Regions from separate parts of the Homo sapiens genome. Here regions 1, 2, 3, 5 and 6 are each linked to region 4. The links come from fine-mapping of genetic effects on gene expression. A gene starts in region 4. Each other region holds a variant in brackets. All regions are shown on one strand. Distances are from middle to middle.

Region 1 (4,089 bases), 54 kb before region 4:
TTGTTATTATTATTTTGACAGTGCCTCCCTCTGTCACCCAGGCTGGAGTGCAGTGGCATGATTTCGGCTCACTGCAACTTCCGCCTCCTGGGCTCAAGCGATCCTCCACCTCAGCCTCTTGAGTAGCTGGGACTACAGGTGCACACGACCATGCCCGGCTAATTTTTGTATTTTTAGTAGAGACAGGGTTTCATCATGTTGGCCAGGGTGGTCTTGAACTCCTGACCTCAAGTAATCCACCCACCTCGGCCTCCCAAAGGAAATTTTATAATGTCTTCGTCCTAAGGGTTCACCTTTCCTGCTTGCTCTTAGAGTAGGATTCTGAGGCCTTGGTCATGCACGTTAAGCCTCAGCCATTCACTAACTGTTAAGCTTTATGATTGCCTCAATCATTTCATTTATCCATTTAGGGAATGTACATAAGCACTCCCCTGTGCCATGCACTGTGTTGGGCAGTGGAGGTACAGCATGCACGGTCAGACATAGTTTCCAGATGAAGTAATATGTAAGGAGATTATGGAAGGATGAACAGGAAGTAGTTACGAGGACAGTCAGGAGGCAGGTGGAGGGAGGCATGCAAGGCAGAAGCACCCAGTATGTCAAAGCCTGGCTCAGAAAAACACGGCAAGTTTGTGGAGATCTTCTCAGATGTATTGTTTTGTTATCAAGTGTTCTTTTGCGTTTCATATCTTAAACTGAATGTAAATGGCATACAGCCCACCGTATCTATCTGCAATAAATTGCAAATAATTACATGTTATAAGTAAAAGTTACCAAGAGGCCACAAGAAGTTGTTTTAATTTATTGTTCATTTTAACCCGATTTTCCCAAGTGTGTCATTGATTTTTGAATTTTTAATATTTTTTCTGGAGTTCATGTTAAGACATACCAGAAGCCAGCAATTCTGTTGTTCTATTTTACTAAATATTAGTTATTTTCCAAATAAATTATTGGCAATGTATGTTAACAAATATTAAGTTGACAAAGTAACTTATTGAACTATCACCATATTTTTATTCTTAATAAACTTCATCAATTACATGGTACATATATGCCATTCAAGATCGACATTCTTTTAGAATACTACAGAGTTATTTCCACTTTAAAGCAGAGAAAATTGAGGCACAGGATGATTCAATGATTTGCCCCTGTCCTCCTGCCAATAAAGGGTCAAACTGGAATCAGAAGTCAGCTTTTCTGATGGAGGCTAACTCCTGTAAAATCGCATGTGGAGAAAGGACTCTTGTGTTTGACAGTCTAAGGGCCTTTTCTGCCTAATCTAAGGTCTGTTTCCCTATATGCAGGCTGGGAGGGGTGATTGTGCAGAGGGACCCTTGGAGAACTGTTACATTATGCAAACTTGATTATCCTGTCTGACATTATTGATGTCAGCAGCCATTGTGAAATGAAGTTTGGGAGATGGAGTGTGGAAGGTGGCACTTGTAATTTTTAATAATCATCCTCTTTTACTTCTTGGGGGGAGGCAGTGGGGGAGAAACAGAGCTTCAGGGTTGTGGATGCTTTAATGGAATCTGTCTGTCACAATAAGGAAGTAGAGAAAGTCTTTTAGCGTTCTACAGGCTAAATCACAGGGCTTGAACCATGGTGTTTTTGGTGAACAGAGATGCCGTACCATAAAGGCAGATGGAGAATGACTGCAGGGTCAATGAGATTGTCACC[C/T]CCCGCGGCAGGGACAATGTTTATTCATCTCTGAAATCCTAGTGCCCTTCACAGGGCACTTAGCTGGAGCTGGTCCAGTGAGAGCTGATTCCAAATACACTCTATAAAGGACCTTGTCTGTGTAGAATTTTGGCATCTCAGGCACTGTGATGACCACTCCTCCCAGTTCAAAATCTCCATATCCAACTACCTGATGAATTTCTCCCTTTGGATCCCAAATGACCAGAACAGGACAGATAATGTCCCCTTCAAGAATTTTTTATCTTATGTGAAGTCCAGTGAATGGTGTTACTGTCTACCCAGTCTTCCAAGTAAGTGTGACAGCTTGGCATCATTTTTAAATTTCCATTCTCCTTTGCCCCACATACCAGATCATTCACCAAGCACTGCCTCTTCTATTTTCTCATGATCTCTTGAATTTGTCCACTTCCCTCCATCTCTACCAACACCTCCTTGGACCATGCCAACACCATTTCTTGCATCTGCAGTTTCAGCAATCTCCTAATTGGTCTTCCTGCCATCACCTTCATTAATCCATTCTCCATGTAGTAGCTGGAATGACATCTAGTTAACCTTTACTTAAAACCTCCATGGCTCTTGAGGTCAAAGTTCAAACTCATTACATGGCCTAAGGCTTTTTGGGGTATGATCCCAACGAATTTCTCCATCTGTCTCCCATCCTGCTCCCTGCCTCCCTATCTTCTTCCAGTTCCTCTAATGCCACACTTCCCCACACCCAGCCTCCACTCATGCTGTTTCTTCTGCCAAGAACATCCTTCCCTGCTCTTGCCTAGCCAAATCTTGCTTATTTTCCATGTCTCAGTCTCAGTTCTTCAGTGGGGACTTCCCTGAATAACCGTATAAGCAAACATTAATAAAGTTCTTGCTATGTGACAGATACTTGCCTTTACATAGATTAACCTGTTCAATCCTCACAATAACCCTATGACATAGATAACATACGGTCTACAGTTAGCAGATGGAGAAACTGAGGCACTAAGAGATAAATGAACTTGTCCAAGGTTACATGCAAGGTAGAAGAGCTGAGATTCAAATGCAAGCGTCTTGGTTCCCTAGTCTGTGTTTTAATCACTACACCCTGACTCCAGACTATGCTGAGTTGTACCTGCTGTAGCCTGGAATTCACTTCCACTGCACCCCTAATGCTTATGCGGCATTATTCTCCCTTCTATAGTTACAGCATCACGTGGACAGGAACTGTGTCTGTCTTGTCCACGGGTGTGTCCGCAGTACCTGCACAATGCCTAGCATGTCACAGGCACTCATGAAGATGTTTTCTGGTTGAATGAATAAAAGATTAAAATTCTCCCTAAGCATATCAGCTGTTGGAGCCACTCTTGTTCCCAGTGTGTTTCAGATTCATTTGGGGGCAGAGAGCAAAAGTGTCTGCATGTGGCAGGTGAGATGCCCCTATATGAGGTGTTTGGATACAGTCGTATGCTGAAGAAGACTTTACCTCTTGGTTGGTGTTTCCCTACTTCCACTCCCAATATGGATGGCAGCCAAGCTTTCATTTTGCAGGTCTAAGCCTCTGTGTCTAGAAAACGGAGGTTTTAGTGACTTGTCTTTTGCAAAAGTAAGAATTGGCAGACACCATGGCAGTGGGCGTCCTCTCTTGCTGAGGACAGGAATGGGGCTAGGCTGCAGCATGCCTGATGAGAAGCTGCTGTGGGTGGTTGGGCAGTTAGGCACTATTTCCCATGGCCTGGAGAGCAGCTGAGAGGGTCCTGTGGGTCACTCTGTACTAGAATGGACTGCAGCTAGGGGCGCCCTGAGCCCTTTCCCTGGAGCTGAGTGACAGCTTGAGCTCAGGGGACCAGCATGTAGAGTAGAAGACTTGGGCTGAGGTCCCGCCCTCGTGGCCCCATCTCTGTGGGGTGTCCACTACGTGTGAGTCCAGGCCCTTAAAGATACCATGGGGTCGGGGGAGTAATAATGAATGCAGTTGAATTTGCTGTCTCTTGGATAGTGGCGGTTATTTGCAGATGAACTTTGGCTTAAAGAAAATAAAGAATGTGGCATGTCTTTCTTCCTAATGTTGTGAATAGGAATTCATTCCAGCTATGCTTGTTGGCACACCTCAAGCACGGTCCAGGGCTCAGGAACATATCGGTCTTATGCAGCTCTTGGATGCTTACCACAAAAGGAGGGCTGGTTGTGGGTGAGAGCCATGGCAGAGTCTGGGGCATGGCAGGTGCATTGCTGCAGGATGAGCCTTTGCGAAGGGCTAGGCTTGCTGCTTTGGGGCAGCTCCCAGGATGGCCACCAGCAGAAAAAGCTCCAGGCCTGGTTCCATGTTCTTTCTCCGGTCCCCACCTTTCCTTCCTCCACAGCACATTTTAAAGTCTGATTTCAGGGGCTTGGGAACGTCCCTCTGCCAGATCCACC
Region 2 (4,089 bases), 120 kb after region 4:
CTGATGGTCCTCTATCCACTTCATAATCTTTACTGTGTGCCAGTGAACAAGAGCCCCAGGTGCCCACCCTCCTCAGAGACAGTTCTGTGCGAAGGATAGACCAAACCAAGCAAGCAGACAAATAAATCACAGTAATTGTATGAGGAGGAAAATCAGCAAGGAAACCAGCAGTCAGTGTGCGGAGAGCTGTTCCCCAGATGGAGTCAAGGAAGTCTTCCTGCAGAGGTGACGTGATTGAGACGGGAGTTGGGGAAGGTGCACTGGAAGCTGGGTGGGTCTCAGAGGGCAGCCTGGTGGTTTATTCGGCCTGGTTGTGTGTGCCAGGCACGGCCGAGGGCACTAAAGGAAGGGTGCCTCACTGCAGAGGAGGAGGAAGCTCCAGTGCCGGCAGGCTCCTGGGATGGAGTAAGGACATGTGGGTGTCGGGATGTGATTCTGGTGAAGCATTTGAGCCCTACCACTCCAAAACCTGAGTTCAAGAACTCACCCACTACATATGAGCAGTGTGGACTTGTGAAAATTAACCTCTCTTATCCTTGGCTTTCTTTTTGGTACAGTGGAGTTGATGAAAAGCATCAGCTTCAGAGGATTGGAGGAAAGGCACGTAGAGTGCTGATGACAGGGCCTGGCACACAGCAGGAGCTCAACCAATGCTCAGCGCTGAGAAGGGACTCACTGTGCTTAGCAATATTGCTGCGGGAAAGCCAGATTGTCCCTTCAGGATCCATCAATGCCGAGGGCAAGGAGAGAAAAGCATTTGGGATTTTCTTTTATGGGTCTCTTCTTTCAATTTCATTTTCATGTATCTCAATTTTTGTTGACTGTATTCACCACTACTTCTTGACTGTTTTTTATGTTCTAGGCACTTTTCACAAATATCTATTTAATCCTTAGTTCTCTATGAATTAAATAGCTATTTGTGAAATCCTATTGGTGGAATCCTCCCACCTTTGTGAGTGTGAATGTGTGTGTAACTTATGTATCATAGAGTTTAAGTAAACTGTTAAATATTACACAGCTATTGAGTGGTGTAGCTGGGGTTTGAACCAAAATCTACCTGGCTCCAAGTTCCTTCTCCTGACTGATATTAGTTTGTTGGGCATCACGAGGTGAGGGCATCTAAAAAGTCTTGTGTGTTTAGATCCTTCCTGGATTTCTCAGGGACTTGTTTCTGTTGACCAACAGGTGTTAGGAGGTAGAAGGAAATGCATGTAAAGTACCGGCCTGCAACTGTTGCTTCTGGCAGAAGAGCTGAGCTTCACCCATCTCTGCCATTAGATAAAGGATGTGGTTGCTATTGCCCAAGAGACTTCTTCTTGGAAATAATGCCGGAAAAAAAAAAAAAAAAAAAAAAGCAATTCCTTGCAAATCCAGCAGTCACTAAAAACACGGAGAACTAAGTTTTTAGGATGGTCAAAAGCCACCCACCTAGTCCATTTTATTTGTTTCCTGTTCATTTCTTTTATTTTCTTCTTCTATCTCCATAATCTTTATTTCCCCACGACAAGATTCTCATCTAACTCTCTATTTAACATACCAATGCTTCTTGAGGACGCCGTTATCTATTGTTTCTTACGGTGCACATTCATTAGCACTTGCCAGAGAGGGGCTGTGTACTGTCATTTCTGCGCCTGCCTTTGTTAGTTTTAGATTAATTCCTGCTGTGGTCATGTTCTTTGGGATAATTTTATCAAGATTTTCTTTCTCTTGCTTTATTACTTGCTTTCTTGGTTACTTTATTAAATTTTAAAATGTCTTATTAAGGTTACTTCTTTCATTGTGACAAAAGTATAACTTTTCCAACTTTGCTCTAAAAACTTGTAGAACAAACTCTTAATAGCCGCCCCCCTCCCCAGGGACATGGGGCAGGACTAGGGTGGGAGTGTGGTGGGGAAGAA[G/C]AGCTCTTACTTTTTAGTCTAAATGTTTCTTTATGGCTTCAATTATTTATAACCATCACAGACTATTTTAATGAATTGTTTTCAGTAATAAATAAGACTTGTAGATCTGATAATGTTATTTTTATAAACTTTTTTTTAATCAGGCCATGCTCTTCAAGATGCAGAGGTATAAGAAGTCCTTAGTGAAATAACTTTTAAGAACTGTGCATTAAAAAGATGGCTAATGGCAATCCCAGCACTTTGGGAGGCCGAGGTGGGTGGATCACGAGGTCAGGAGTTCAAGACCAGCCTGGCCAACATGGTGAGATCCTGTCTCTATTAAAAATGCAAAAATTAGCTGGGCATGGTGGTATGCACCTGTAATCCCAGCTACTCAGGAGGCTGAGGCAGGAGAATTGCTTAACCGGGACCCAGGAGGTGGAGGTTGCAGTGAGCCAAGATCACGCCACTGCACTTCAGCCTGGGCTACAGAGCGAGACTCTGTCAAAAAAAAAAGAAAAAAAAAAAAACAAGGAAAAGAAAAGAAACTAGTGTGAATATGAGAGCTTCATTGAATCCAGGGATATGGCTTAATAGAGATTTTTAAGGCCACTTGACCTAACTAGAGTTTGCAGCTCAAATAGAAGTTTTATTGGGTTCTGTTATTGGATTATCCAGTGGGGCAGAGGTAGAGCTGCCAGCTCCCAAATTAACACTGTAGATTGGCATCTACTGCAGGCAAATGACTTCCAACTTGGCCATCACTGAAAACCATATGGAAAGACAATTTACAAAGTCTCTGGAGGCTTTTTGGTGACTTAGTGATTGGCCTTTTGGAAATGGACAGAGCAAGGAGACAGAACAAACCTGAATATTTGGTGGCTGCAGCTCTTTTGGTCTTCACAATCCATTAAGTCCTCACCTGGGTAGGTGTCTACCTGTTACAGGTGGGCAGGTAAGCCTGCTCGCTGGCCATGGAGGCAGGACACCTCTGGATGGAAAATGAGCCTGTCTCGGAGAGCGACCCCTGGTGGATGGGGAGCTTTCCTGCACTTCACAAACATCACTAAAGGTGAATCCCATTCCCCTCCTCTGTCTACCTCCTTCTCTCTGGGCTCGTCTCTGTTTCCAGTCATCTAAATAGAAAGGAATCCTTAAAGATACAGTAGTCAAAACATTGTAAGCCCTCTCCTACCCCTCTGTCCACTCCCCACACTCACACATCAGATGTGGGTTTCTTAAATATAAATCTAGGATTAATGCATTCAAGCCTGGTTCCTTGGGGGAAAGCTGGAATAACCAGCAAATGTCAAAATGTTTTCTTTAAATATCTAAATGAGTGGAAAATAAAACAATATAATTTCCCCAGGAATTACCTGGCCACTGGTCTTTTCCATAGACATGATACATCCCCTTATTTCTCCCCAGGGTGAATCCAGTTGGGAGTATTTGACACTGCAGATCTCGGGTGCTCAGAGGGAGGCACCATTAGTTTAATAAGAGAAGGTCCTGAGTCTGAGGGTTCTAAAGGTGGCCCCCATAGACTCTAGGCAAACTGCTCAGCCACGGTCTCATGAATATCACATCTTTCTGTAGGTCTGGAAGAGACCTGGCAACACCTCCAGAAATGGCCTCCTTCTCTGGGTAGTACCAGTTAACCTCTAGAATCTAGTATAACTCGAAATTTTTATTGGAATTATCCAACCATTACCCTGCTCGCTGTATTAGCTCTGCCCTCGAGCGCTCTTGACTAAGTATCAGGGGAATGAAGAGCTTTGTCAATTGGAACCCAAGCCTCCTGATCTTAATTAGAGATGTGCCAAAGTACCTGAATTTAATGGGGGAGGTTGGCAGACAGTTCTCTCTCCACCCCTCTTGCATTTAATGACTTCATTACTGATTACTGTCCACAGCAATGCAGAAATTAAATATGCTCTGCAGAAAAGCAAAAAGGTTGAAATGCAGTTGCTTTTGCATAGCAAGTTCCACGCGAAGCTTTGCACTGTTTGCAAAACGGGGAGAGCCAAGATGTTAGCATGCCTCCCCCACACATACCCTGCCACAGCGCAGCTCAGCCCAGCAGTCTGGCCTCCCAGGCCCGGGAGGGGCCCATACGGAAGGTGGGGAGAATGAATTATTCATGTGCTCGCTCCCATCCACAGATAATTCAATATTCTGCTCTCAATAATCTTTGCCAGCGTTATCTGTATTC
Region 3 (4,089 bases), 800 kb before region 4:
CTGTAGTTAAACGGACCACCTCATCTCTGGGACTTCAAAAGAGGAGAGGACGGTCAGCAGGGGTGGCCTGCTCAGAAGGGCCATACTTTGTCCCCAACATCCCTCAACAACCCCAAGGGCAATGCCACCCCAGACCTCACTGCCAGGCCTTCCAGAGTCCAATAAACTCATGTCCCATGACCACAGCTTGTTCCCTTGATCTATGTGCACCTGGGGATGCTGGTGGCTGGGAGGTGAGTTCATGAGGCCTCAGATCCGCCCTTGAAGTCAGTACTGACATTCACCCATTCTTCAGACGAGGACATAGAGGCCTGGGAAGAGTCAGCAAGGACAGAAGCTGGGTTCACAGCCCCCCAGGCCAGCTCCAGAGGCCTCAATCTTCACCAGCAATGTGCCTCTGGGCTTGAGAAGATTGGACAGGAAGAACACAGGAAGCTCCAAGAAAAAAGAACTGAAACTGCACCAAGAGTCAATGATCTGCTGCCTCCTCAGACGTGCAGCAATCTGACAACATCCATCAAAATTAAAAGCGCGTGCACCCTTGACTTCACAATGGCCTTCTAGGAATTTACCCTCCCAACGCACTAGTGCACGTGTCTAAGATACAAGGTTCTGCCGTAGCAGAACTGCTTACGGCAATGAGTTTATGGCTGCCCACACCCCCAGCCTCAAGTGAGGAGGCTCCAACTCCACAGCAGGTTGGCAGGGGCTGAGCTGTGCCCCTCCACTCAATGGAAATATTTCCTGGACCAAAACGGAACTGCACCAGGGACCAAGACAGACAGGACCTCCTCCACCCCGTGGAAGGTAACATGGAGAGAGGTCCCAGTGGATCCACCAAAGAAAAGGAATGTCCATCTTATCTTTCACCTAGAGTGGGATCCAGTGCAAACCAGCACACACAGGAGGATCCACTGTAGTTGCTGGAATGTAAGATGGACATACCGTGTGTGTATGTATGGGAAACTTCTGGAAAATGCAATGTTGGGGTGAAGGAGGTAGGAGGCTTTTTCTTCCTATTCTTATGTCCTTCAGTCATGGTTCATTTGGTTTTGCACTCTCATGAGCATATATTATTTTATACTTAAAAAAAAGGGATTGCATTTCAAAACTTCCATGACCAGCTCCGAAGTCAGTGGGTCAGAGGGAATTCCCTGCTCACTCCTGGAACAGACCCATCCAGCCCCCTGCCACCTTCCTGGGCTCTGCAGGAACCACATTCACGCCAAGTTTGGAAGCAGCTGGGTTATGTGCTCTTTACACCAGTGCTGCTGGACATAGACTTGGGAATCCTTTTTATGGAGGAGAGGGACAAGGAAGGCAGAAGCGCCTGGGGCCCAAGCATGTTACCTTCTCAGCAACCGCTGTACTCTGCACATTTGTTTTCTTGTGGAAGTTCTGGAAGAAGGTGGAGGAGGCTTGTCCTGAAAAGGCTGGTGGGGCCAGAGGATGGCCAGTGGACCTGCTATCTGCACTCCTCGAGATGGCCATGGGGAGCCCCAGAGATTCTACCCATGTGGGTGGGGGTAGGAGCAGCAA[G/A]TTAGGTCTGGTAAATGTTAACCCTCCTTTAGTTGCACATGCAGGCTGGGATCATTCAGAAGAGACTTTAGTATTTGGAAGCAGTGTTAATCCACCACTAGCAAGAGCCAGCCCTCACCCCACACATGCATGGCACCATCTTTGCCGGCACTGCCTGCAGAGGCCTAAGTGCTCTGGGCTGGAAACTTGGCCCCACTCCTCTGAATGACCAAGGCAAGTTCTTTGATCACTGCCTCAGTATCCCCATTTGCACTGTAGGGATAGTGATAACACTTTCTCATGGGATGGTTGTGAGAACTAAATGAGATAATGCATTATATGTTCTTAGAATAATGTGTGCTAGGCACATGTTATCAATAAAAATAATGAGAAGGAGACAAAAAGAAGGGGATCTGCCTTGCAATCTTTTCATGTGTCTGCTATGAAACAATGTCACATCCATCATGATGGGCAGCCCCATTGTGTGGAGCATAAGTCACTTTGGGGCCTTTCCAAATCTCAACGGGGATGCAAGCTGGCTGGAGAAGGACTCTCTGGGTTACTGAGACATGCCCTGTGTCAGACTGGGTGGCCCAGAGATGTCATCTTTGCAAAGAATGGTGTGTTGCAAGAGAAGAGATGGGACGCTGATGAGCAGGGAGGGTGTCAGGGTTCAGCTATGTGGGGACAAGCTCACTGTGTAGCAAAACAACATCTGCACCCAGCATGGGGAGACTGAGGGTGTTTGCTAGGGAGCAGCTGGGGAGATGGATCCTGATGAAAAGGAAGTCTTCCAGCCAGTCCTTCAGACAGCTCCGAAGGACACCGGAGCCAAGAGGGCCTTGTGGTAACAATTTTGCAGAGCCAATGGAGCACGGCCCTGGTGCTCTGGGGTTGATCCTCGCTTTCTAGAAGCTGATCCTACGGGTAGCGGCATCCAGGAAGCCTTCTGCAGCGTGGTCAAAGCACTAAGAGATGAGAAGCTATTGCAAGAGCCCTAGGGGGCTAATCCATTCTAGAGACCACAGCACATGTGGCGATTAAGCCTGCAGGCCTAGAGGAGGGGCGTTGGGTGCAAACCCTGGCTCCTAACCAAAAGGCTTTTTGACTTGAGGCAAGTAATTCAACCTGTCTGTGCCTTGTTTCCTTCTCTGCAGTTCTTGTGAGGGTTCGATGATATGATAAGGGTTTTAAAAGCAGGTGCAAGCTCCCTGTGATCATTCTTTTGCCTCAGTATCCCGGCAGGCATTGAGAAGGCTGCTTGGAGGAAGGAGCCTTTGAGTAGGGCCTCAAAGGATGAGGAGGTGTACCCCAAGACGGAGGGGCGTTGAGACAGAGGGAAAGCATGTATGCAGTCCCATGGCTAGGATTTGGGGGTGGAGTGTGTTTGAGAGTGTGAGTGTGTGCATCTGTGTGAGTTTGTGCGTGTGAATGTGAGTATGAGTATGTGTGTCTGTGTGTGCATGTGTGTGAGTGTGCATGCATGTGTGTGCTTGTATGAGTGTGAGAGTATATGTGTATGTGTTTGAGTCTGTGTGCTTGTGTGTGTGTGCATGTGAGTGTATGTGTGTTTGTATGTGGCCTGTGTGTATGTGTGTGTGCTTATATGAGTGTATATGAGTGTGTGCTGTGTGAGTGTGCATGTGTATGAGTGTGCGTGTGCTGTGAGTGTGCATGTGTGTGTGGGTGGGTATGCATGTGTGAGTGTATATGAGTGTGTGCTGTGTGAGTGTGCATGTGTATGAGTGTGCGTGTGCTGTGAGTGTGCATGTGTGTGTGGGTGGGTATGCATGTGTGAGTGTATATGAGTGTGTGCTGTGTGAGTGTGCATTGTGTGAGTGTGTGTGTGACTGTGTGGGTGGGTATGCATGTGTGAGTGTATAAGTGTATGTGCTTGTGTGTGCATGTGTGTATGGGGGTGTGACTGTAGGCATGTGTAGTGTGTGAGTGTGTATGTGCTTCGTGTGCTTGTGTGAGTGTATATGAGTGAGTGCATGCTTGTGTGAGTGTGCATGAGGGGGTGTGTAGGAATGTGTGAGTGTATGAGTGTGTATGTGCTTGTGTGAGTGTGTGTGCATGTGAGTGTGCATGTGTATGAATGTGTGTGCATGCATGTGTGTGTCTGTTGCTAAGGGAGAGGACTTAGCATTAGTGAGCAGCAGGAGACGAAAGGGGAAGCAAGTTTGGGGTTCATGCAGTCATGTGACAGGCTCTGGGGCTTCCTCTGCAGGCCTTAGGGAACAAGCCTGGTTTGGAAGCACTGAGGCTGAGGTGGTGGTGACAGGCCCTCACTTGGTTTCACCCTGGGGGTGTAGGTGGGCACAGGAACAATAGCTGAGCAAGCAAGAGGGGACAGAGGCTGCATGCAGGGCCTGAGCCACCTAGAAGGAGGCTGCTTTCCCAGCCCGGCCCTCCCGCAGCGCCTGTGTGCTCATAGGAAAATCCTCCTCCCGAGAGATTTATGGCTGGCGGCTGCGACAGCTCTCGTGTCCTTTGCAGGGGGAGCTTGGCTACTCCTGCCTTGGGCTTAGGCAGAGCGCAGTTCTCTCTCAGAAAGTCTAGAGCCTCGCA
Region 4 (4,089 bases):
TAATAGAGGGATTTGAATAACCATGGAAGTTAGCCTGGAGAGAGATTTAGGAGGCAGATAAGCCTAGTGTTCACTGTGGGGGCAGATGCCTTCCCCATCTGTGCAGACGATTGGCCCAAGTGGCCATGATGACATGGCTCCTACCTACTTCCTAATGGACCTCAGAGAATTAAACAGCGAGGACAACAGCGAGTGTTGTCTCTCAGACCCTTGGCTTTTTCAGGACTGCCTGACCTTTCTTTGTCCTTATTTGGCTTCAAGTCAAGTCAGCTCAACCCTGATTGAGCACCGGCAATGAGTCATGTCTGTGAAGGCGACACAGCCCCTGTCCTTGAGGAGCTTCGAGTCCAGTGACTGTCACTTCAGTGGAAGTTGGGCTGGACACAGTCACATGTGTATGCCAGACATGAGGCTTTGTTCTCATTACAATAATTGCCCTGCATTATTCTAGCAATTAAGCTTCTCCACGTGTGTGGATGCATGTTCCCAATTTTTTCTGGCCTCTACCGAACACAATGTTAATATTTGAGAGCAGTCCTAAAAAATTAAATAATTATACAAACTGAATTAGGATAGCATAATATTACCAATCAGAGTAATGTGGCTTTGTAATCCAGTGTGATGTCATATGAATCTACAAATTAGGAAGCATGTCAGAGGAGGAAACCACATCCTTTATTGCTTTGCCTTAAATAGCTTAAAACTAATCTTTTCCATGAGCCAACAGCTATCTCTCATGTTTAATAATGCTCCTCCCTGCCCAGATGAAGCTAACTAAATGATGTTGCCCCCTGCACCTGCAAATGCCTGGTGCCAGGGCAGGGACACAGGGAATGGCAGAAGGGGAGACCAGATGTTGGCTGAGGCATTGATTTATGGGCATGACCTTCCATGTGCCCCGAGGATGGCTGAGACCAGGGTTTGATGAATGCAGTGCTCTGTGTGAGAAGTTCTAAGGTGACAAGCAAAGATTCTATCCTCTGGAGGGGCAAGCCCTATTATTAGGTTGGTGCAAAAGTAATCGCAGTTTATGCAGTTGTAATGGCAAAAACAGAAATTACTTTTGCACCAACCTAATACCAGACAGAGGAGGTGCAAGTGCATGCCACCAGGGCAGGTGCAGGTGATGGGGGCAGAGAAAACTCAGATGTCTCCAATCTGTGCAGAGTAGGGAAACAGAAAAAGCTAAGTGAGGAAAGTGAGATTGCTATCACACAGATGCATGTCTTAGGTTTTCTGATTCCATTCCTCATGAATTTCATTAAGTAATCAAAGTGCTAAGCATGAAATGTGGGTATGCTGTCACCAGGTGGCAGCAGCATCCACTCTCCAAAATGCATTTTGTTCAAACCTAGTATGTGCTGGGTATTCTGAGCACATAGCAGAGACTAAGGCAAAGAGTCCCTGGCACTGTGGAGCTTAGAGGCTAATGAGGTGGCAGGTGCTTACACTTTAGAAACCGTTGTGAGGAATAGCTAGTGGTAGTTAAATGATACAGTGATAGTTAACAGAGAGGAAAGCTTTTCTCTCACTCCAAGCTATATTTTTATTATCACTATTAATATAAATAGAAAATAAATATTAAAATAGTTATTAAATAAGCAAAAGATAATGTTGCATTTAGTTATACGATTAAGTAGAGGTTTTCAAATATTTTTTAGCTTTGTGCAACCGAAATTATATGAGGAAGCAAAAACCACAAATACAGAAAATAAGAACTTTTCTGTTTGAACAGAAACGAGGACACTGGGGAGGCCCTTCCAATGCAGGCCAGACTTTTAGGGGCTCGACAGAACACAGCTGGAGAAACATCCACACCACACGCGGTTTCACCTGCCACACGGCAGCCCGGGTGCCCGGATCACTGTGTGTGGAGACTCAGGCTCACCGGCAAACCTCTTCCGGTTCCGGTCAGGGTGCTGCCTCCCTATCCACTGGGAGTCCTTTTGCGTTTCAGATGCTCCCAGGCTCTCCCGCAGTTTAAAGACTTAACTCAGCGGCTTTCAGGGCCTGTGGTTGAGGGACTCCGAAAGAACTGTTGCTGGTGGACCGGTTCAGGGTCTTGACTTCGCCACACAAAAGAACTTGAGAGCACGTCCAAAGTAAAGGTAAGCAAGGGAGTTGATCGCACAGCGAAAGCGCACTCTGCCAGCGGATCGGAGCGGCCGCTCAAAGGCGAGGCAGTGCTGGCCGACACTGGGGAAACCCCCTTTATGGGGGTCTTACATGATTATTCATGAAGGGCTGGGAAGGGGTGTTGCCGTGAAGCATGTTCTGGGCTGTCTCCTGGTGGCACATGTGCTGTGGTTGTGCATGCTAGTACACACATCGCATGTCTCGTTAGCATCGTAAATCTCCACCCAGTTCTTTAGTATTCTAATGAGCGCAGGTCAGCCCAAGGACACTCATCTTGGGTTTCTGCACTTGGATGAATTCGCGGATTTTTCCTTCGCTCTTTGACCTCCTCGCTAAAGGATGGTCTAACCACGAGCCTGGGATGCGGCTTGTGCACCGCAGGTGGCTTGTTCTCGCCATCTATTTAGCAAGTTTGCTCTCCTTTAAGTGAGGCTGTGACCACCCTCTCTGACCTACCTCAGAACCTGTTGCTTAGCTTCAGAAATCCAGCCTGGTGCTGGGCTGAGGTCAGCCTGAGGTCAAGCCATGCCCCTGAGACTTAACTGCCCTTGGATACCAATTTTCAGCAACAGAAAAGAATGAAAATAAAGTTCACATGAGGGCTAGTGCTGCTGGCAATGAGAAGGTCCTGTGACTACTTTTATTACCACTTCAACGATAAGGAGGTGACCTTTCATTCTCATTTCTCTCTCTCTAATATTTTGCATTCTCCAACTGTTATCTGTAAGAACATCTTAGCGCATTTGAAAAGCAGGGAAAATATGTAATAAAAACCACAACCAACCACACCATCTTAATGATAGCACTATTATTTTGTAATTCCTTCCAGTATCTTTGCCCAAGGTTTATTACTTGTTGAGTATTTGCAATTGTCCTCAGTAAAATTCTGAGACATGATTTTTAATTTAACATACCTTAAGATTTTTGTTTGCAGGTGGCTGAATTTCTTCAGAAAAATTATTTTAAGGGCTACTCAACACTGAGCAGTTAGTATTCATTCAGGTGGCCATTCTCTGATGCCTGTATTGCTTCCAGCTGTTGGGAAATGAACCCAGTGGAGAATATTGTTTTTCTTTTGCTAACAACAACATCCGTTAGGACAGATTTCCACATGTCTGATTGCTGGGCCGATGACACAAACATCGACAATAGCGCTTCACGCGTGTTGACTGATGATTTCCAAAAGCTTATCTTCCCAGTAGGCAGTTTGCCAGATGCTTCCAGAAATAGATGAGAATGCCAATTTCATCACACTGTTGCCAGCACTAGGTATGTCCACTACATTTTAATGCTAGTGTAATAGGCAAAGGGGACCTGCTGTCTGTTTCACCATTCATTTCTTTGCATGGTTGTCAGGTGGGACATTGCATTCTCCTGGAGAGGCCAGATCACTATGTCTCCCAGGAGGCCCTAGCAGAAGCTGCTCTGGTGTCCAGCTCCTGTGTGAAGCCTCCCTGGTCCCTGACTCTTGGAACAGACTTCTTTTCTGCCCTTTAAACACCCCTAACATCATGCGTGGTCCTTTGCTATGACACAGTTGTTCCCCATTCTGCATCGTCATGAGGCTGTCTACACCCTCTCTCTCTCCTGGGCAGGGCTCCGGCTCTGCAGGGGATGGGGACGTGTGTTACTCTGTTAGTCCCCTGCCTTGTCCAGCACAGCACTGTACATGCCACAGAGGCCCCACAGAGCTTGATCAAAAACTAACAATGATTAAACCAAAATTACGAATGGACAAAAAATTTCCATCAAGAAACCTCAACATTTTAATGTTCATGAGGGGGGAATGTAGGGTAAATGCACCTGATAGTAATAAGCATACCCTTAGAATGACCCTGTATGGCAGATGCGCCTAAATGTGTGTTCTGTGCTAGGGAATCCAGGAGTGGCCAACCCGGAGATTGATTCTGTGTCTATGATAAACATCTGAGCCCCTGGCCTGTTCTGTGGAAC
Region 5 (4,089 bases), 160 kb after region 4:
GCGTGAACCCGGGAGGCGGAGCTTGCAGTGTGCCGAGATCGCGCCACTGCACTCCAGCCTGGGCCACAGAGCGAGACTCCGGCTCAAAAAAAAAAAAAAAAAAAAAAAAAAGGAGGCTGAGATGCCAAGTAGCTTGTCACATATCACATGGCTGGAAAGCAGTGGAGGCAGGCGTGCGGTCTGGTTCTGCATCCCAGCTTTTAGAAGGTCTGTTGAGCTTGCATGGAGTAAAAAGGTGCTCTGGGACACCTGCTATCAGGAAGCCAAAGGCAAAACTGCACAGACATGCTCCTTCAACCAGCGCACACGGCAAAACTCAGGCCACTTTGGCTGCTCTTACTTGTTCTCTATAAAATGTTTGTACTTTATAACAGCGGTCCCCGACCTTTTTGGCACCAGGGACTGGTTTCTTGGAAGACAATTTTTTTTTTCCATGGACCAGGGCAGGGGGATGGTTTGGGATGATTCAAGCACATTACATTTATTGTACACTTTATTTCTATTATTATATTGTAATATATCAAGAAATCTACACAGCTCACCATAATGTAGAATCAGTGGGAGCCCTGAGCTTGTTGTCCTTTAACTAGACGGTCTTAGCTGGGGGCGATTGGAGATGGTAACAGATTGTCAGGCATTAGATTCTCATAGGGAGTGTGCAACCTAGATCCCTTGCACGTATAGTTCGCACTCTAGTTCATGCTCCTATGAGAATCTAGTGCTGCTGTTGTTCTGGCAGAAGGTGGAGCTCAGTTGGGAATGTGAGCCATGGGGAGTGGCTGTAAACACAGATGAAGCATGGCCCGCTCTCCTGCCACTCACCTCCTGCTGTGCAGCCCAGTACCCGTCCGTGGCCCTGCGATTGAGGGCCCCCGCTTTATAAAGAACCTTACACTTACTTCACTGTAAACACAATTTGAAATTCTCATTCTTTTAAAATACTTAGTTCTCATACTTTAAGATATGTAAGTTTGACAAGTGATCAACTTTTGAAAAAGCAGCATTTAGGTGTTTGGAAATAAATGGCATGACTGCAAGGTGTTTAGCCGATGCTGTTTCTTAGTGATGCCTGTGGAAATAGCTATGTTAGATTGTAACTGTTTCCTGTGTCTGCTGTAACAAATTACAAAAAATTTCGTGGCTTAGTGCAACAGAAACTCACTCTCCCACAGTTCTGGGGGCCAGAAGTCCAAAGTCAACGTGTCGGTGGGGCCACACTCACTCCTGAGGCTCTGGGGGAGGGATTTTCCTCACCTTTCCTAGCTTCTGGTGGCTCCTGGAGATCCTTGGCTGTAGTCACCCCCTCCCATCTCTGCCTCTGCCTTCACATTACCGCGTCCTCTGTGTGTTGATGTCTTCTCCTCTCTGATCTTGTAAAGGACATTTGTCACTGGATGTAGGGGCCACCCAGGTCATCCACGATGATGACATCGCCAGACCCTTAACTTCATCTGCAGAGACCCTCTCCCACATAAGGTCACATTCACAGGTGCTGGGATGTGAACAGACCTTTTCTTGGCTCGGGGAGGGGGCAGCATTCAACCTACTGCTGAGGTCATTTGTTCAAAGCACTTAGAACAATGGCATCAATAAGAGCTCAAGGAATACTGGTGGTTGCTATTAATATAATAGTAATGATTATTATTTCCTAGGGTAGGGTTTGGGAAGCCTCCAGGCCTTTTGGTTAAAACTGAACTGATGAGCACAGAGAGTCAGTGCAACAGGTGGGGGAAAGGCCTGGGAGCCTGGCGGCCCCTGCTCCCACCAGTAAGGCTGCCTGTCCGAGGGGAGGCCTGGGGGCTCCAGCCTCATCCCCCATCAGCACAGCGAGAACAGTGGTTTCTTGCTGGGGATTGCAGTGTCTGCCTTTCGAGTTTCCTTGGAGCAGATGTTCTGAGAGTTCAGTGTTTTCCCTGCTGAGAAGCCCAGGGCTCTGACCCTGCCAACATGCTCCCGAGATTCCTAAACACAGCACTGATTGGAACCTGACCTCTTCACAGTGCAGAGGATCCTTGGGGGCTCCTGCTCTTTAGTAAAAACACAGCTCGCCTCTCATTTTCCACCTGGAGCTCCTCACCCGCAAGCCCTGGTGGAGCTGCTTTGAGGATGGACCAGAGCCTCATTCTGTGATGCTATCATTTCTGCATCCACAGATTCACTGCACTGGCCATACACATGCTCGGCTGCCGGGGGACCAGGAATGCAGGGTGCGGGCTCCTGACCTGTGTTTCTAAAGTCTGCTCATTCACCC[C/T]TCGCCCAGTGCTTCTCATGCTTTCAAGGAACACACACCCTTTCAAGGGTCTTGTGTGTGCCAGGCACCCTGAACAGGCCCAGCCCCGCACTTAATGAGCTACTCACGAATCAGAGGACAGGATGGTGAAGTGACAGGCAGTCACACTGCTTGCAAGGGGGTGACATTTGGGGGCAGGAGGCTGTAGGGTCCATGAAGAAACTCCACTGTAGGTTGTGGGGTCGGAGGAAGCCGAGGGCTAAAGGATGAGTATCACCTGGAGAGAGGAAGAGGTTTCCATTGACCTGGAGAGAGGAAGAGGTTTCCATTGGCAAGTGGTACTGGATTCCTGTTTGCTGTGGGAGCTGCCTGGGTGTTGTAGGATATTGAGTTTAGGCAAAGCCCTGGAGGCAGCAGATAGCAGGTGTGTCTGTAACTATGTGACCCCAGGGAGGTTGGCGCCCAGTGGGCAGCCTGGGGAGCATAAGAGGAGGCTGTAGGAGCAAACAAGCAGGCAGGATCCTGGAGGGCCCATAGGTACTGAGGAGTGTGGGCTACGTGTTTGGAGCAGGAAAGCCACATACTCCGAGCAGCCTTTTACAATGGCCCACCTGCTGTACTGGGACCTTATCACTCCATGCTGGGCTCAGATTAACACCAGTGAAAAACATCTCAAGATCTGCTCCTGTGTGGTTTCTCCTGGTCAGTCACCCAAGAACCAGCCCTGCAGCTTTCTCCACTGGCCCACGGCACAGACTCCAGAGTGGCCGCCGCACTCGCCCTGTATGGGCCCTGCAGCTTCTGTGCCATCACTTCCCCGAGCTCACTCACACCTTGCACCCCAGCACCGGGCCACCCAGCACCGTCCACACTGTGCAGTCGTGTGCTTCCCGAGAGTTGGTTATATTTGTTCCCAAACCTGTTTACTCCAGTCGTACTTGCTAGTGTAAATACACCCTGCAATTAAATATTACATAAAAAAATGAACATCTGAGTGCAAATAAGAAGGCCGTCGCTTCTATAAATAAAGGTTGAATTTTTGGAAAGACTCAAACAAGGCAAGGTACTAAAACTTTCTTCAAATTTTTTTTTCTGTGAAACAGCAATAAAGCACTGAGGGAAAAATAAGTCAAAATTCCAGCTGATGGCTATACCTGCTGCTGCTTCAAATTCTCTTCATGTTCTCTCGCCAGGATAAACAAACTGGAGGTGGTTTCATGGGTGTGGCGCATGCGAGGCCCACAGCAGAGGGCAAAGGGTTTATCTTTTTGTTTGGTTTTGTTTCTCAAAGGTTGGTAAATCTACACCTGCAGGCATGTTTAACTGTTTTATGTTACAGTATTTAAGATGCATCATCTTTAGCAGTGTCTCCTGTTGTATTGGGTAAGAGGGTGTGGGCTGAGAATGTTTGTGGTCAGGAAGAAGAGGGCACCCCTAAGAGCTCAGGGTGGCTCCAAGCTCCATCCATGTCTTGGTCTGTAAACTGGAACACCAGTGACAGTTTCTACCTATGAGACAGCCGTGTGGAAAGGTCTCAGCCATGCCTGGTACATGATCAGCACCCCAGCATTAGATGTTGAGAGAACAAAAAAGTATAGAAGAGAAGTGAACATTTATTCCTCTAGGAAACAAGCAAATTACTTATATATATAACATATATTAGATATAAATTATATCTAATATATGTTATATATTACATAATTATATATAATTTATATATATTTATACATATATAGCTATATAATTATATAATTTTATATAATTATATATAACATAATTATAAATATATAATACATACATATAAAATATATGTATGTATTATATATTATGCATATGTGTTATATATAATACATACGTAA
Region 6 (4,089 bases), 180 kb after region 4:
GATGCAGCAAAGGGGCCTGGGGCCTTTTGTCTGAGAAGTTTCTGCAAACAAAGAAAGTGAGACCAAAGTCAAATGGGTCCCTCCATGATCCTTTGTGGTCAGTCTGTTTAGCTCAGTTCTCTGCCTGTGGCAGAGCATAGGGGAGCAGGATCCATCATCCATGGGAAGGAGACAAGGACTATGCAGGGTGGCTGTGCCCCAGCTGATCTTCAGGCAGGAGCCTAGCACCCACGTAAACTAGAGAGAGAGCTGCCCAGAGATGCCGCCGCAGTTATCCAGGAAGGGGAGGCAGCAGGAGGCAGGAGAGATTTGACTAGTGAGGACCAAAGCTCAGGGGCTACAAACACACAACACCTGTACCTGGGAGAACGAGACAGAGCTTGGTCCTACCACCAGCCAGTGAGGCTTTTGACTTGCCCTCTGCCCTGTCTTCTTTCAGGTCCAATGTCATCTTCTCAGTAAGGGCATTTCTGGGCACCCTATTCACCATCGCACGCCCTGCACCCACTCTCTTCTCCACTCTGCTTTCCCCTTTAGCTGTGGTCACACCAAATGTATTATGCATTTTATTTCTTTATATTGTCCACTGGGGTTCTACCTATGAGGATCCAGGTAGGAGTTCTCACCGTCTTGCTCACAGTACCTGGCACAGGGTAAGCCCCTGACAAATCATTCTTAAATAAATGGATAGATGGGTGAATGAAGAGTGGGTGTCCTGATCAAGTTTGCTCACACATTAGGCTTATAACCTCTTTAGAAAGGGGCATCTGTCACTCTGATGGCCCTGAAAATATCTCATAATCTGTCTTTCCAATTTTCCCTATAATGTATTTTCTTAAAGTAAACTTCAGTTAGAGTAAATTTCCTATAGAATTAAATGTGAAAAATCCTAGTGCTTTGTACCAGGTCAGAATTAACTTTCATAAAGATGACCTCGGAGCTGTCCCTTTTCACATCTTTTTTTCAGGGAACCATGAGTAAAAGTATAAAGACATTTAAAAAATTTTCCTTAAGGAAAAGAGATGCTAAAGTCTTCTCTAGTCTACATTAGACAGAAGAAATTGAGCCAGGACCTTGGGTTGGAAATTCTTATCTGTATATGTATTTACTCCTTTGCTTAATCATTCTCTCAGTCAACACATATTTTGTACTCCCTAGGTGCTAGGTGTGATATGAAGTACAGGCAGTGATGAGTAAGCTGTGCTCTTGGACTGAATGCTTTGAAGGTCAAGGAGGACAATGGTGGGGGAGAGGACATTGGCTGTAGACAACAGGGAGTTGCAGGTGGTCTTCTGGTGGGCCTCTGTGTGAGTCCACTGAGAGTCAAGGCAAAGATATAAAGAGTGATGAAGGTATGAACAGAAAGAATTGAGGTAGCAAGGGGAGGATACATTTTTTGAGAATTTTGGAGGTGAAGAGGAGAAGTCAAGGGTTGTATTGGGAGGAAAGAGCAGGGTTGAAGTTTGGGAATTGAAGTGATTATGAATATGTTGTAAGTACGTGGGATGTAGCCAATGGAGGGAAGAGCTGATGATGTGCGGAAGCCACTAACCCACTAAATCCCTTTCCCGCATCACAGGCCCTGCTGAAAGGGTTGACAATGAAGACTCTCAGGCCACCGTAACTCATGGAGAAGCCCTGAGCATCTGGCCCGCTTGTAAG[C/T]GAAGGAATGTGCTGGCATCAGGGCTGGGTGGGATTTCATTTTCCTCCTATCAAGTTACCCTTAGCCCTGGTATCGTGGAGAAGTTTGTAGCCACGGGCATGCCATCCAACGGAGGCAGCCTCTACACTTGTGCCCTGAAAAATCTAAAGCAAAATAAGTCATTTGGCAAATACATGTGGGTGCCTGAAACAAGCCAAAAGACTTCAGCGTTCAGGATGTGCAAGCCACATTAATAATAATGAGAAGGAACCAGGTCATCTGTTTCCTGATGCTCAGTCCTGGCAGCCTCTTAGGTGGAACAGGGGCCAGACGCTGGCTAGAGAGCTCTTACCTAGAGTTATTGGTCTGTGTGTTGAGACATGGGGCGTCTCCTGGTGGCCTGAGTGGGATGAGGACATCAGCTGAGCAGCAGTGGTGCTGCTCTGCAGCTTCAGCTTACGTGTTGTCCCAGCCACATAGCGCTGGAAGAAACCTGCCTGGAATGTGATCAAGTGAGTTCTCAGGAGTGGGGAGGTCACACGTGCTGCATTTTGATGCTGACTTTTTATATTCAAAGCAATTTGCCCAGGTGAGCTCAGTACAAGTATTGCATTACCTGATGGTTTATGGATAAAATACCTGGATGTACAACTTAGTTGTCTCAAATTCAGCAAAGTTGTTATAGTCTAAGTGATGGGGGTGGGGGGTGTTCAGTAGAGGTCTGAAATCCTGAAATCTGGGATTACAGTGATTCTCATAGGGAGATTTCAGGCACTTTTCTGTCATCCACTACCTGCCCTTCTGCCATTGCAGGGTCTAGTTATCTTTATCTCCTCTGAGGTCTGAGTTCTACATTCACTTGTTTCCTCATTTATTCATTAACAATATTCATTTCTTAGCCAAGGATGGTGGTGCACACCTGTACTTCCAGCTACTCAGGAGGCTGAGGTGGAAGGATTGAAAATCCATCCATCTGTCCTCCTACCCATCCTGCTATCCATCCATCCATCCATCCTCCCATAATCTATCTTCCCATCCATTTGTCCTTCCTTCCTTCCTTCCTTCCTTCCTTCTTCCTTCCTTCCTTCCTTCCTTCCTTCCACCCATCCATCCTCCCATTCATCCTCCCATGCATCCTCCCATCCATCCACCCAACCATCCTCCCATCCATCCTCACATCGATCTTCGCATCCATCCATCGATCGATCTATCCATCCATCCATTCTCCCATTCATCCATCCTCCCATCCATCCTCCTATCCATCCATCCATCCATCCACCCTCCCATCCATCCATCCTCCCATCCATCCACCCTTCCATCCATCCATCCACCCACCCTTCCATCCATCCACCCTCCCATCCATCCATCCTCCCATCCATCTATCCATCCATCCTCCCATCCTCCCATCCTCCCATCCATCCATCCATCCATCCATCCATCCTCCCATCCTCCCATCCTCCCATCCATCGTCCCATGTGTACATCTGTCCTGCCATCTATCCATACATCCATTTCTCCGTCCTCCCATCCATCTTCCCATCCATTCATCCATCCATCTTCCCATCCATTCATCCATCCATCCTGCCATCCATCCTTCCATTGATCCATCCATCCATCCTGCAGGAGACCAGGAGTTCAAGGCTGCCGTGAGTTATAATTGTGCCACTGCACTACAGCTTAAGTGACAGAGAGAGAAACCATCTCCAAAAATGAAAAAAAGAATATATTGATTTCAGGCCAGTTACATAGATTCTGTGTTGAACAAAACTAGATGTGTTTCATTCCTGTCTTTAAGGAGCATAAATCTAATAGGAACAACAGATAATTTTTAAAAAATATATCAATGTGTGTAAAATTTCAACAGGAATAAGCCCCAAGGAGGTGTGGTACCTGGGGCTATAAGAGTAGCTAATAGTAGAATTTGGGATAGTCTTGGGGAAGGAGAGGGCAGAGAAGGCTTCCTGGAGGGGTGATGGTTGCTTTGAGAGTGGAGAGAAAGAACCAGTGTTCTTGGAAAAGAGGGTGGCCTGAGCGAAGGGCCTGTGGCAGGAGGGAGTGTAGAATTCAAGGAACTGGGAGGAGGTCCTTGTGGCTAGGAATATGCAGAGTAAGGGGAAAAAGGCAAGAAATAAGGCTGGAGAGTGGGGAGGGCCACAGCACACGAGGCCTTCCCTGCCCACCTTGCCCACATGCCCCAGACGTACTGAGGAGCTGGATTTGGTCATTGTTCTTATGAGTGCTGTGTTCCCAGATTTCCCCTTCATAATCTGGCGACATCCACCAGAGCCAGCTCCTGTGTCCCTGATGTGATTACCCCTGACTCCTTCCCCTCCTGACACCTGCCCCAGGTACTCACACCTCTACCGATGATGCCTCAGCCTGGCCCTTTGGCTTTTTGACCTTGGACCCCTCCCCACTCCCTCTCCACCTCTCTGCTTCCCACTTCCC

Direction of the effects. Positions count from the first base shown, and alleles are read on the strand shown. Sizes are in standard deviations (SD) of each study's normalised expression. Not every link is listed here.
As copies of G replace C in region 2, the expression in whole blood of the gene that starts at base 1,956 in region 4 goes up (small effect, 0.28 SD a copy in GTEx).

The links. PIP is the estimated chance that this variant, and not a neighbour inherited with it, causes the effect.
Region 1: its variant is the best candidate, but not a certain one, in a credible set for the expression of MIR646HG in lung (TOPMed, PIP 0.55).
Region 2: its variant is the best candidate, but not a certain one, in a credible set for the expression of MIR646HG in whole blood (GTEx, PIP 0.61).
Region 3: its variant is the best candidate, but not a certain one, in a credible set for the expression of MIR646HG in esophagus muscle (GTEx, PIP 0.89).
Region 5: its variant is the best candidate, but not a certain one, in a credible set for the expression of MIR646HG in whole blood (INTERVAL, PIP 0.86).
Region 6: its variant is the best candidate, but not a certain one, in a credible set for the expression of MIR646HG in whole blood (TOPMed, PIP 0.86).

The regions. Positions count from the first base shown.
Region 1 is chr20:60,082,458-60,086,546 of GRCh38, forward strand. No RefSeq gene overlaps it. Among named protein-coding and RNA genes, the nearest start is that of LINC02910, 29 kb to the left of the region's middle. The variant C/T (reference allele first, on the strand shown) is at 1,681.
Region 2 is chr20:60,260,288-60,264,376 of GRCh38, forward strand. All of the region lies in intron 3 of MIR646HG (MIR646 host gene), which reads left to right. The region is part of intron 1 of LOC105372698 (a long non-coding RNA gene); the gene reads left to right. Among named protein-coding and RNA genes, the nearest start is that of MIR646, 46 kb to the right of the region's middle. The variant G/C (reference allele first, on the strand shown) is at 1,899.
Region 3 is chr20:59,338,178-59,342,266 of GRCh38, forward strand. No RefSeq gene overlaps it. Among named protein-coding and RNA genes, the nearest start is that of EDN3, 40 kb to the left of the region's middle. The variant G/A (reference allele first, on the strand shown) is at 1,540.
Region 4 is chr20:60,136,537-60,140,625 of GRCh38, forward strand. MIR646HG (MIR646 host gene) reads left to right here and starts at 1,956. Exons shown (of 5, transcript NR_046099.1): 1 at 1,956-2,108.
Region 5 is chr20:60,297,068-60,301,156 of GRCh38, forward strand. The region is part of intron 3 of MIR646HG (MIR646 host gene); the gene reads left to right. Among named protein-coding and RNA genes, the nearest start is that of MIR646, 9.4 kb to the right of the region's middle. The variant C/T (reference allele first, on the strand shown) is at 2,252.
Region 6 is chr20:60,311,731-60,315,819 of GRCh38, forward strand. The region is part of intron 3 of MIR646HG (MIR646 host gene); the gene reads left to right. Among named protein-coding and RNA genes, the nearest start is that of MIR646, 5.3 kb to the left of the region's middle. The variant C/T (reference allele first, on the strand shown) is at 1,663.